Linked DNA regions of Homo sapiens. The protein of the gene in region 1 purifies or fractionates together with the protein of each later gene. This does not show direct contact. Each region holds a gene or a part of one and is shown on either strand. Other genes may lie near its edges.

Region 1 (4,584 bases):
TACATATCAGATCTATATTTTATTTATCTCTTCCCCCTTTCCTTTTTGCCCTCTCATTATTAATTGTTGGTGACCCTTTCAGGAGTAATTCTAGTGTGTTTACATCTTTAATCATTGAATTACTTACACATCCTTTCACCTCATATCATTAGCAAAAACGGATATTTTTTAAAACTATTCCCGACTGCAAGATTATCCTTTTGGTCATGAAAGCGTGACCTGCAATGGTCCAAGCAAAATTTTTAACATAGTTATCGATGCATAATGTCTTTATAGATAGCAATTAAGTAAAAATATTAAGTCTAATTAAGCAATTGTTTAAGTTACACAAGTCTCATGAAGTGCATTGGGAAACTTTCTGCTTTTTCTCTTCTTTGAAAGGGCTTGTACAGATGAGAATTACCTGTCCCTTGATAGATTTTTTTTTTTTTTTGAGACAAAGTCTTGCTCCATCACCCAGCCTGGAGTGCAGCAGTGCAATCTCGGCTCCCTGCAGCCTCCAATCCCCAGATTTAAGCAATTCTTGTGCCTCAGCCTCCCAAGTAGGTGGGACTACAGGCATGTGTCACCACCCCCGGCCAATTTTTGTATTTTTAACAGAGACGGAGTTTCACCATGTTGGCCAGACTGGTCGTGAACTCCTAGCCTCAAGTGGTCTGCCCGCCTCAGCCTCCCAAAGTGCTGGGATTACAGGCATGAGCCATCACACCCAGCCCTACCTGTTCCTTGAATGTTAAGTAAAATTCACTTGTAAACTGGGCCTGGTATTTTCCTTGTGGAAAGATTTTAAACTACTGATTTGGTCTCTCCAAAGTTTTAAATTTAGATTGTTTCTTAGTGGGTTTGGATTTTTTTTTCCATTTTTATATTGGCTATTAAAAATGTAGGGGAGCTTCTGTCATTCAGTTTCGCTTCATCTAAACTAGAACCTACCATCAAAATTGCTATTTCAATATGATGTGTGATTCATATTTGGAACACAGTTTTAGAAATGCTTTTTGAAAGTAACTTTAAATAAAATATTATGATATAGTTAATGAAGATCATTTTATTTTGTCATAGGAGGAACCAAATCAGATGAAAAAGTGGACTTGAGCAAGGACAAAAAATTAGCCCAATTTAACAACTGGTTTACATGGTGTCATAATTGCAGGCACGGTGGACATGCTGGACATATGCTTAGTTGGTTCAGGTAATCAGCACATTTCTTCTTTGATAGGCTTGGAGTTATGGGGGATAACACAGATTGCTTCTAAATAGTTTGGGTTTATCTATTAGCATTTAGCCAAAGTATGAATTTTATTTTTTACTGTCACTCATGTTAACAAAGGTGGTGTGAACATGTCGTGATTAGATATCCTATGTAACCTTAAACTATAAAGGTAATACTTATGTAAGAACTAATTTAAATGTTTTGTATGAGTTAAATGTTTGAATAACATTATTTAACTTTATTCGGGGAGAGGATATGTTTACAGTTTTTACACTGAATATTCTGTAATTTACCATGCAATTGAATTACTAATGAAATGTTAAAAGAGCATATCATACCTCTGCCTCAGTTCTCTTCTAAGTAAGCTTTTTATGTAGTCACGCAATTAAGACTGTCAAGACATATTTGAATTTCATTTTGAATGGTGCCAGTGGCCCTGTGCTCCTGGTTGATACAGCATTTATACCCAGTTTGTCTTACTAGCTAATTTAAACTCTGAGCACATCCCTGTCACCTTCACAACTATAAATGAAATATCTTGCCATATATGTAGAAAGTAAAAGGTATGTGTTTCTTAACTTCTCCCTAAACTTCAGCTTGGCAGTAGTTTATAATTTGATGCTTTTGATGCTTTTTTTCTCTGGGTTTTAGTTTCTATATTTTTCCAAATGCCATTTTGAAAAGTTGCATTATAGATAGATATAAGTAAACAGGTGGGCACAGTGGTGCACACCTGTAGTCCCAGCTACTCAGGAGGCTGAGGCAGGAGGATCACTTGAGCCCAAAAGTGTGCGTACAGCCTGGGAAATATAGGGAGACCCTGTCTCTTAAAAAATAAATAAATAAATAAATGTATGTCTGTCTAATTTGGATTTTTAACTGTTATTTGACCTATTTTTTTAGGGACCATGCAGAGTGCCCTGTGTCGGCATGCACGTGTAAATGTATGCAGTTGGATACAACAGGGAATCTGGTACCTGCAGAGACTGTCCAGCCATAAAATGTTACCACCTTAAGAGAACCCTTCAAGTGTGGAGCTTTCTAGTAGGTGTCCTTCATAGCTCAGAAACATACCTCAGAACAAGCCATTCATGACTTACCTGTAATGGGAAAATAAATCATTCTATCAGATCAGCAGTTTTGATGTTTGAGTGATTTTGATATGCTTCACAGAGACAAATGCTGCCAAAATAAACATCGAAGTATAGACATGAGTTCTGTTCAGCAGGTTGAAAAGTCTGATTTAGAAAAACTTTCTAAGTTTTGGTTGAAATTATGAACACTCTAGAAGCAGAATTTCTGGAAGAGCCAAGAACAGACTTTGAGCCTATATCTTCAAAGCTGAAACTGGATATCTTTCAATAAAATATGTGCACTTTTAAAATAAAATGACTAATTCTGTGATTCAGACAATAGTTTTAAGTTCAGCTGTGCTTAGATTTCTTTCAGATTAATTTAAAATTACAGATTTTTACTTTTAGAATTGCAGAGCCCCTATCCCACACTGGAGAATATTTTTTATTACTGTCTGTTATATATGTGTCTATGTGTGTGTGTATATTTATGTGTGTATGTATAAATATGTATTTTTTAAAGGAGCCTTTTCCCTCCTTTGATTTTAAGATAAGCAATCTTTTGGCATAACATTATCGTCTTCCTAGAAAAGCCAAGATGAAGAATCTATCTTACAACTTTTTCTCTTCAGTAGAGAAAAACATGTACCATTTCAGGTGAACATACAAAATTTTCACTTTCTACCTTTTGCCTTCCAATGTCCTGATTTGTCTTCAAAGGTTTTTCTCCATATTAATTTGTCATCTTATCCTCATCACCTGAGAACATTTTACTGCATACAAAGTCTATGCAAGATTATATGTAACTAGCCATTTAGTATAATCTATGTCAGTGTTTCTGTGCTGTCAAATTCCGTCCTGATTTGGAATACCATACCTTGTTCTTTCCAAGGTAGACTAGGAAGTGTTGGGGAAATGGGGTCACTTCAGAGACCATTTTAGATGTAAGTTTTTAAATGTAAGTGTTACTGGGGCTAAGTCAGGTACTTTATTTAAAACATTTTTTTTTCTCATTTCATAGCTAGATAGTTGTAAGAGAAATACAAAGAATTTACAAGATGCTTCTCTGTCATCTGCCATATGCAGAGGGACTGAACTAGGAATTTTGTAGTTGAAGCTGTGTTCATAAAGAGTAAATCTTATTTTATAGATTTTGGAGAAATAAAACAAGAATTTTAAGAGCTTTCGTATTAGCAGTTTTGCCTTATAAAAACTAAGATTTGTCAGATTAGTTTGAGGTGTAACCTAAATATTAAAAGTAGATTAAATTTATTTTTTACCTTGAGTGTCTGATACATAAAACCCTTTTCTAGGAAAACATTGGAAGTAGTACATATTTACTCTAAATGTCTCACCTGCATGACAGTCTTTTCAAATGAAAGACATGGTAATTGCAATTTTTTTTTAAAGATTGCTATTAAGGGTACTTTTTCCAGCCTTCATTTGAGTAAATCTTAATTGATTTCATTTTATTAACATATACCCTTTACCTTTAATATTTCATTTGAAGTGTTCCTTTCAAACTTACTGTCTTAAATATGAAAGTCAGCTTTAAGTAATGTCAGACTCATATGCATTTTCATTCTCATTAGCTAAAGTAAAATGTAAAATTATCTCAAATAGTTACAAGTTTTGGAAATACAGTATAAAACATGAATGTAAAGTCTATTATGTAATATGCTTATTTGTAATCCTAATATATGAGGGTGACATTTTTAAGATTGTATGTATGTGTCAACCTCTTAAATGTTTTCTGTGAAGCCCAAACATGCAGTTTATGTCTCTGGTGTCTGTTTTGCATTTCAGTGTGCATGGACAATCAAATTATTTTCTCATTTTTATCACTAAGTCACTGGTATTTGGGTTTATAAACTCAACAAGATACTTTACCTAAACATGATCAATAGATGTGTTTATTAAAAGTGTTTTTATTATTTTTAAAAGATTGAATAAATCTGGGTTGAAGTCATTGTATCTAATCAAGAAATTATGATTCCTTTACAAATAATCCACGTGAAGTAATATTGGTGCTTTTTTTGATGACAGACTTCATACTTAATATTAGAAGTAACATTCCTTTTAGGCTCTGTTTTTCAATTCAACCCACTTTCCAGAATAGTTATTATCCTTTAAAATGGTATATTTTAAAAGTAGCTTCCCATTGTCAATGCTTCACATAGTAAGTATTTAAAAGAATGTAGTTCTTCATTTAATTAGATGACTCAATTTCAGTCATTCATTTGACTGCAAGTAGTTAAAGCATGGTCTTTGAAACATAAATTATAATCCTAGCCTCGG
Region 2 (7,035 bases), on another chromosome or scaffold:
TTTAGGGGACCACGTATTGCTTGAGGCATCATCACAGGTCCAAATGAACACACGACCATCCTAGGAAGAAACAGGATAGAGTCAGGAGGTGGAGTCAAGACTCCTGCGTTTGTGATGTGATGTCCTCCCAGTCTAGAGCCACCCGGCACCTCTCTGCAGGAACAGGGTGGGGGATTCAAAGGGGAGCCGAGGACCTCTGGGGCGTCCACAGCTTTGTTTCTGTCTCTTCACACTGGTTAAGAGTCTCCCGGATTCCTTTTCTCATCCGGGTTTCGGAGGTGGACTCTGTCTGCATTGCTAACTCAGATTTTCTCTGGGGTTTTCCTCATGCCTGCCAAGTCACTTCCACTGGCCGTCTATACCTTCTCAACTGAATGGGCAGAGCTCTCCAAAAACCAAGCTCCAAGAATGAGAAGGCACAAGTAAAAAAGCACAAAAATCCCAAGTTTAGAACCAAACCAAACAGGTTCCCATGATGTGAAAGGCCTAGCTGGCTCCCTCTAGGGTGGTGGTGTATAACTGAAGGCTCACCCTTGGCCGTCCTTGCTGTCTGGGAAGGGTGGCTTGGTAGCTAAGCGTATAATTCCCATCCAACCCCATCGTTGCTTGGGAACACTTGGAACTGCACCTGGGCACCTCGGCGCCCTAGTCTCACATGGGTCAGAAGGGAAAATTCATCCCGAATCCGCCTCCTTCTTGGTGCCGGTTCTGTTGTAGCTGTCTCATCTCAGTGGAGGCAGGCCACTTGTGGCTTCTGACCAAGACTTCCCCACACAATGACCTGACTCCCTGTGCTCTGGGCCAAAGGTGCCTGTTGCTCTCCCTTTACCTTCCCAGAGGACTTTCTGCTAAGGAGACTAAGAGCTGATGGGCCTGACTCGAGACTAAATGACAAGGGATACTCATGGCCCTGGGCTGACCTGGGAGCAGCTGGCGATGGTGCTGGTGGGCAGGCCGATGGAGGGGGCCCAGGCCACATCTCGAACCCAGTCACTGTGCGCTTCTAGCTTCTGCTCCTCCTTCCACTGGCCGTCCTCCTCCTCCCTAACAGTGGGGACAGAAAGAGAATCAGCAGGGGGCCGTTCCCACACCTCAACTCCTCCCCAACCCAACAGGCTCTGCCTGGGGTGGAGAAGCGATTCCATCTTTCTTCTTTCATTCATGGAGTTTGTGGCATTTTATTCCCTTCACCCCAGCTGTAAAAAAAACCCTCCAGAAAATGCTCTGCTTCCACAGCCAAAGAGTCAGCTCCAACAGTTGGGAATTAGGTGAACAGGTGTTGTGTTGTTTTTCAAGGATGTCCTCCAACAGATTGAAAACAGTATTTTACTGGCAGGAGGGAGAAAGAAAGGTGACCTTGTTTCTTGTGAGTGTGGCTGAGTCATGGTGAGTAGGGTAAAGGGTAGAAGTGTCCCCTCAAAGAGAAGGCCACACATCCCTACTTACTTCCACAGCTTGATGAGGTTGTCACAGCCACCTGATGCAAACCTCTTGATGTAATTGGGTTTCTGCCCCGATGGGTGGTCTATGAGGCTTCCAGGTACAACAGCAGGGGCCCAGCTGACGGCATTGCAGCCAATCTGTAAAGATGGGACACATGGTGACTCTGCCTTGCAAGAGAACACTGCTTCTGCAGACCCAAGCCTGCTGTCCCTCTCCCCTCCGCTTCTCAGGACTGGAGTGTGTGTGAAGGCTGACATGAAGCACTCATCATGGGGTCCACTGCTCAGAATTCTCCCTCAAGGATCCCAACAGTGTGTGCATTTTTCTGCAGTGTGCGCTAAAAGTAGAAATTAAGAACTCCCACAAGTTTAAGAAACAGGACATTTTCTAAACACATGAAAGAATGGTACATTGGAGCTTTTTTTTAAGAAAAATCTTTTATTATAAAGTAATAGATCAAGAAACAAGAATTCTGCCACCTGCCTGAAAAGCCCTGTCATTATGCCCTTCCTAATCACAGCTCCCTCTTCCACTATAAGTAACCACTGCCCTAACTTCTAACCCATTTTCCCCCCATTTTATCACCCAAATGTGCACCCCTAGATACTATAGTTTAGTCTTGTCCATTAAACATTTTTTTGGATGTTTTTTACATCTCCTACTTTGCAGATTCCTCCTCTGATTTTTTTCCTTACAATTTTTCTGCTGAAGAGAGCCTAGTCTCTCGGTCTGGGTTTTGCTGCTTCATATGCAGTTCAATATGTTCCTCTGAATTCCTGAAAACTGTCAGCTGGAGCCAAGACTGGACAGACTCAGGTGTGATCCCTTTGGCAAGACTAGAGCTGGTGCGTTCTCTCATCAGGAGGCACGTTAGATTGTCTCTTATATTAACAGCTGTCAATAACTCAGGCCTCTCTTAATTCACTGGGGCTTGTAAAATGGTGATACTCTAATTCCATCCTTTCTTTGTCATTTATTCCATGGAATGCTCCAGATAGGGACACTTCTTCTCATTAACTATTCAGTTACCCAGGGATAGAGGTCTGATATGGTTTGGCTGTGTCCCTACTCAAATCTCATCTTGAATTCCCACGTGTTGTGGGAGGGACCTGGTAGGAGGTAATTGTATCACAGGGGCAAGTCTTTCCCATGCTGTTCTCATGATAGTGAATAAGTCTCGCTAGATCTGACGATTTTAAAAATGGGAGTTTTTCTGCACAAGCTCTCTCTTTTGCCTGCTGCCATCCACGTAAGCTGTGACTTGTTCCTCCTTGCCTTCTGCCATGACTGTGAGGTTTCCCCAGCTACGTGGAACTGTGAGTTCTCCATCCTCTTTCCTTTGTAAATTGCTCAGTCTTGGGTATGTCTTTGCCAGCAGCGAGAAAACAGACTAATACAAGGTCAAAAAGGAAAGGCTGGATAAACGCTTGATTCTTTCTGAACTGGTTCTATCACTTTCCAAAGATGACTGATTCTCCTCTTTATTTATTATTAACAATTTTTTTTTTTAAAAATTGAGACAGGGTCTCACTGTCACCCAGGCTAGAGTGCAGGCTGGTAAGATCATGGTTCACTGCAGCCTCAAACTTCGTAGGCTCAAGTGATCCTCCCACCTCAGACTCCCAAAGTACTGGGATTATAGGTGTGAGCCACTGCCTTTTTTTTTTTTTTGAGACAGAGTCTGGCTCTGTTGCCCAGGATGGAGTGCAGAGGCGCGATTTTGACTCACTGCAACCTCCACCTCCCAGGTTCAAGTGATTCTCCTGCCTCAGCCTCCCGTGTAGCTGGGACTGCAGGTGTGTGCCACCACGCCTGGCTAATTTTTGTATTTTTAGTAGCGTCGGGGTGTGTTAGTCCATTTTCACGCTGCTGATAAAGACATACCTGAGACTGGGCAGTTTACAAAAAAAAGAGAGGTTTAATGGACTTACAGCTCCATGTAGCTGGGGAGGCCTCACAATCATGGCAGAAGGCAAGGGAGGAGCAAGTGACATCTCACATGGATGGCAGCAAAAAGGGAGAGAGAGCCTGTGCAGGTGAACTCCCCTTCATAAAACCATCAGATCTTGTGAGACTTATTCACTATCAAGAGAACAGCATGGAAAAGACCTCCTCCCATGACTCAACTCCCACTGGTTACCCCCTACAACACATGGGCATTCAAAATGAGATTTGGGTGGGGACACAGCCAAACCACATCATGGGGCTTTGCCATGTTGGCCAGGCTGGTCTTGAACTCCTGAGCTCAGGTGATCCGCCTGCCTCAGCCTCCCAAAGTGCTGGGATTACAGGTGTGAGCCACTGTGCCTGCCCTGGGCCCAGCCTTTTAACCCTCATTTCGTCTTAGTTCTCTACAAGTAACTATATATTTATGCTGAAGTCTTTGTAGTCATTTTAGTTGTGTGACTTGTATCCTCTAGTAGATTTCTCAGGAAGGGCTCCTAGAAACAATAGTCCCTGAATTCTTGCATATTGATAATAGTTCATATCCTTTACACTCAAAAGCTAATTTTAAAAACAGCTTTGATATAGTATAATTGACATAAACTGCATATCAAGTGCATGATTTGGTGAATTTTGACAAAAATATATCCTGTAGGATCATCACATCACCTCAATCAAGATAAGGAACATGCCCATCATTCCCAAAAGTTTCCTCGGATCCCCTGGTAATCCATCTCCCCATCCTGCAGCCCCCAATCGTGGTGACCATGGGCCTGCTCAGCTGCATTTCCTAGATATTACAGCAGTGGAATCACAGTGTGTCCTTTTTCTTCTTTTTTTCACTCAGCATAATTATTTTGAAATTTATTCTTCATCTTATTTTGTTAAGTCATTTCTTTTTATTGCAGTCATTTCTTTTTATTGCTCGCAGTATTTCCAAAGTATGGATATATCACAACTTATCATTTACCTGTTGATGGACATGTGGACTATTTCCAGTTTTTGGCTATTAAAGCTGCTATAACCTTTTGTGTATAAGTCTTTGTGTGAACTTCAAAGTCAATTTTCCTGGTTATAAATCCTTGGCTCACACTTTCTTTCCTGGAGTATTTTAAACATGTTATTCTTTTTTCTTCTGCACCAATCCTTACTATTGAAGAGTCTGACAATAATCTAATTGTCTTTCCCCTTTAAGTCACAAGGTTCCTTTTCTCTAGAACCCCCCAAAATTTTCTTTAAAGTCTAATAATTTTACTAGAATTATATCTTTTTGTTGGTGATGCTGAGTTGAATTTTTTTTTTTTTTTTTTTTTTTAGAGACGGGGTCTCACTATGTTGGCCAGGTTGGTCTTGAACTCCTGGCCTCAAACAGGAGTTCACCTCGATCTCCCAAAGTGCTAGGATTACAGGCTGAGCCATCACGCCTGGCCTTGATTTTTTTTTTTTTTTTTTTTTTTGAGACAAGTCTTGCTTTGTCGCCCAGGCTGGATTATAATGGCGTGATCTTGGCTCTCTGCAACCTCTGACTCCCGGGTTCAAGCAATTCTCTTGCCTCAGCCTTCCGAGTAGCTGAGATTACAGGTGTGCGCCACCACGTCTGGCTAATTTTTGTATTTTTAGTAGAGACGGGGTTTCGCCATGTTGGTCAGGCTGGTCTTAAACTCCTGACTTCAGGTGATCCGCCCACCTCAGCATCCCAAAGTGCTGGGATTACAGGCTGAGCCACTGCGCCCGGCTGATATTGTTAAGTGTGGGGTATGATCTCTCAATCTCAAGTTTCAAATCTTTGTTTTTTAATTTTAAGAAAGTTTTCTGGATTACTTTTTGGTATTCTGTTTTCCTTTCCAGGGACTCCTGGTATTCGTATGTCTGACCTTTCTGCCTGTCTTTACTTTTGGTCAAAACCTTTTTACCTCTTCATTTTTTTGCTCTTGAAATGTTTCCTTTTTCACACTGTTTATCCTTTTCAGGCAGGATCTGCTGTGTTCATCGACACTTGCATTTCGTCTTAGTCTTTCTTTACTTCTGAAATGATTTTTAATTCTAATTCTTTCCTGAGTTCTGTCACCTTATTTCTGATTTTTAAAAAGTTGATTTACACTATTCTCTCTTGTTTTGTATTGTTAGAATGTCACCTGGCTTGATTTGAAATAGCAGGTTACAGCTTGGCTCGGTTATGTGGGCATGTCTTTCTAATGTGCTCTCATTGTCCGCAGGGAGGTTATTTTGCATATTCTTGTTTCTTATATAACAACTGTATGCAATTTCACTTCAAATACTTTTCTGTTATTTTTAGGTGAGATGAGTTTTCCTGATAAGAAAGGCTCAGGAAAGTCTAAGCTCAGAACTCTCCCTTGTTTCTGTGTGGTGTTAAAAAACGTGGGAGATGGCTTTCAGGAGTTCCTGTCTTTGTTCCTCTTCCCCACATTGGTCTACATCTCATCCTTCCTTTCCTGTGTCCCTATCCAGCTCAACTGTGATTTCATTTCCTGCAGTTCTTCCTCCTGAGGGGCCCTGTCCCAGAGGCTTGCTCTGGAGGATCACAGAGCTCAGATTTCTTCCCGCCCCTTCAGCCTTTCTTATTGTGGGCCGCTTCCACTCACTCGGTGTTACAGAGTGCAAACCCCTCCTGGTCATTTCTCCAAAGGCCCCCAGAAGATGCTCACCATCATCTTTGATTAGCAAAATGCAAATAAAAATCACAATAAGGGCCGGGTGTGGTGGCTTACACCTGTAATCCCAGCACTTTGGGAGGCTGAGGTGGGCGGATCACTTGAGGCCAGGAGTTTGAGACCAACCTGGGCAAAATGGTGAAACCCTGTCTCTACTACAAATACAAAAATTAGCCGGGTGTTGTGGCGTGTGCCTGTAATTCCAGCTGCTCAAGAGGCTGAGGCATGAGAATTGCTTGAACCTGGGAGGCGGGGGTTGCAGTGAGCCGAGATCATGTCACTGCACTCCAGCCTGGGTGACAGAGCAAGCCTCCGTCTCAAAAAAACAGAACAAAACAAACCCAAAAAATCACAATAAGATACCACCTCACATTCACTAGGACAGCTGTAACCAAAATGACAGACATATGTTAGTGAGGATGTGGAGAAATTAGAACCCTCATACACTGCTGATGGGAATGTAAAAGGGTACAGTTACTTTGCAAAACAGTTTAGCAATTCCTCAAAAAGTTAAACACAGAATTACCATATGACTCAGCAATTTCACACCTAGGTATAGACCCAAGAGAATTAAAAACATATGTTCATGCAAAAACTTATCTGCAAATGTTCATAGCAGCATTATTCATAAGGCCGAGAACATCCATCATCTGATGAATGGATAAACAAAATGTCTATATTCACAATGGAGTATTATCCAGCCATAAAAAGGAATGGAGTGCTGATACACGCTATGATATGGATGAAACTTGAACTCATTATAGTAAGTAGGAGAAGCCAGTCACAAAAGACCACAGATTGTCTCATTCTATGTACAACTGATCCTCAATTTCATTTCATTATAATGCTGACAAGATTAAAAAAAAAAAAACAACTCCCAGCGGGGGCCCCTGCCTGTGTGGAGTCTGTGTGTTCTCCCTGTGTCTGCGTGGGCTCTCTCCTGGTACTCTGGTTTCCTTTCACACAATAAAGATGT

Evidence for each region.
Region 2: the proteins of MIOS (region 1) and SEC13 purify together in Homo sapiens (affinity purification with mass spectrometry; 7 studies listed by BioGRID and IntAct, with this or other methods). This does not show direct contact.

What each region holds. Positions count from the first base shown.
Region 1 is NC_000007.14:7,604,880-7,609,463, forward strand, and holds the end of MIOS (GATOR2 complex protein MIOS), read left to right. Parts: intron 1-1,062; coding exon 1,063-1,192; intron 1,193-2,116; coding exon 2,117-2,213; 3' UTR 2,214-4,053; downstream 4,054-4,584. UniProt on the Homo sapiens protein: As a component of the GATOR2 complex, functions as an activator of the amino acid-sensing branch of the mTORC1 signaling pathway. The GATOR2 complex indirectly activates mTORC1 through the inhibition of the GATOR1 subcomplex.
Region 2 is NC_000003.12:10,304,113-10,311,147, forward strand, and holds part of SEC13 (protein SEC13 homolog), read right to left. Parts: intron 1,581-7,035; coding exon 1,447-1,580; intron 1,045-1,446; coding exon 921-1,044; intron 61-920; coding exon 1-60. UniProt on the Homo sapiens protein: Functions as a component of the nuclear pore complex (NPC) and the COPII coat. At the endoplasmic reticulum, SEC13 is involved in the biogenesis of COPII-coated vesicles.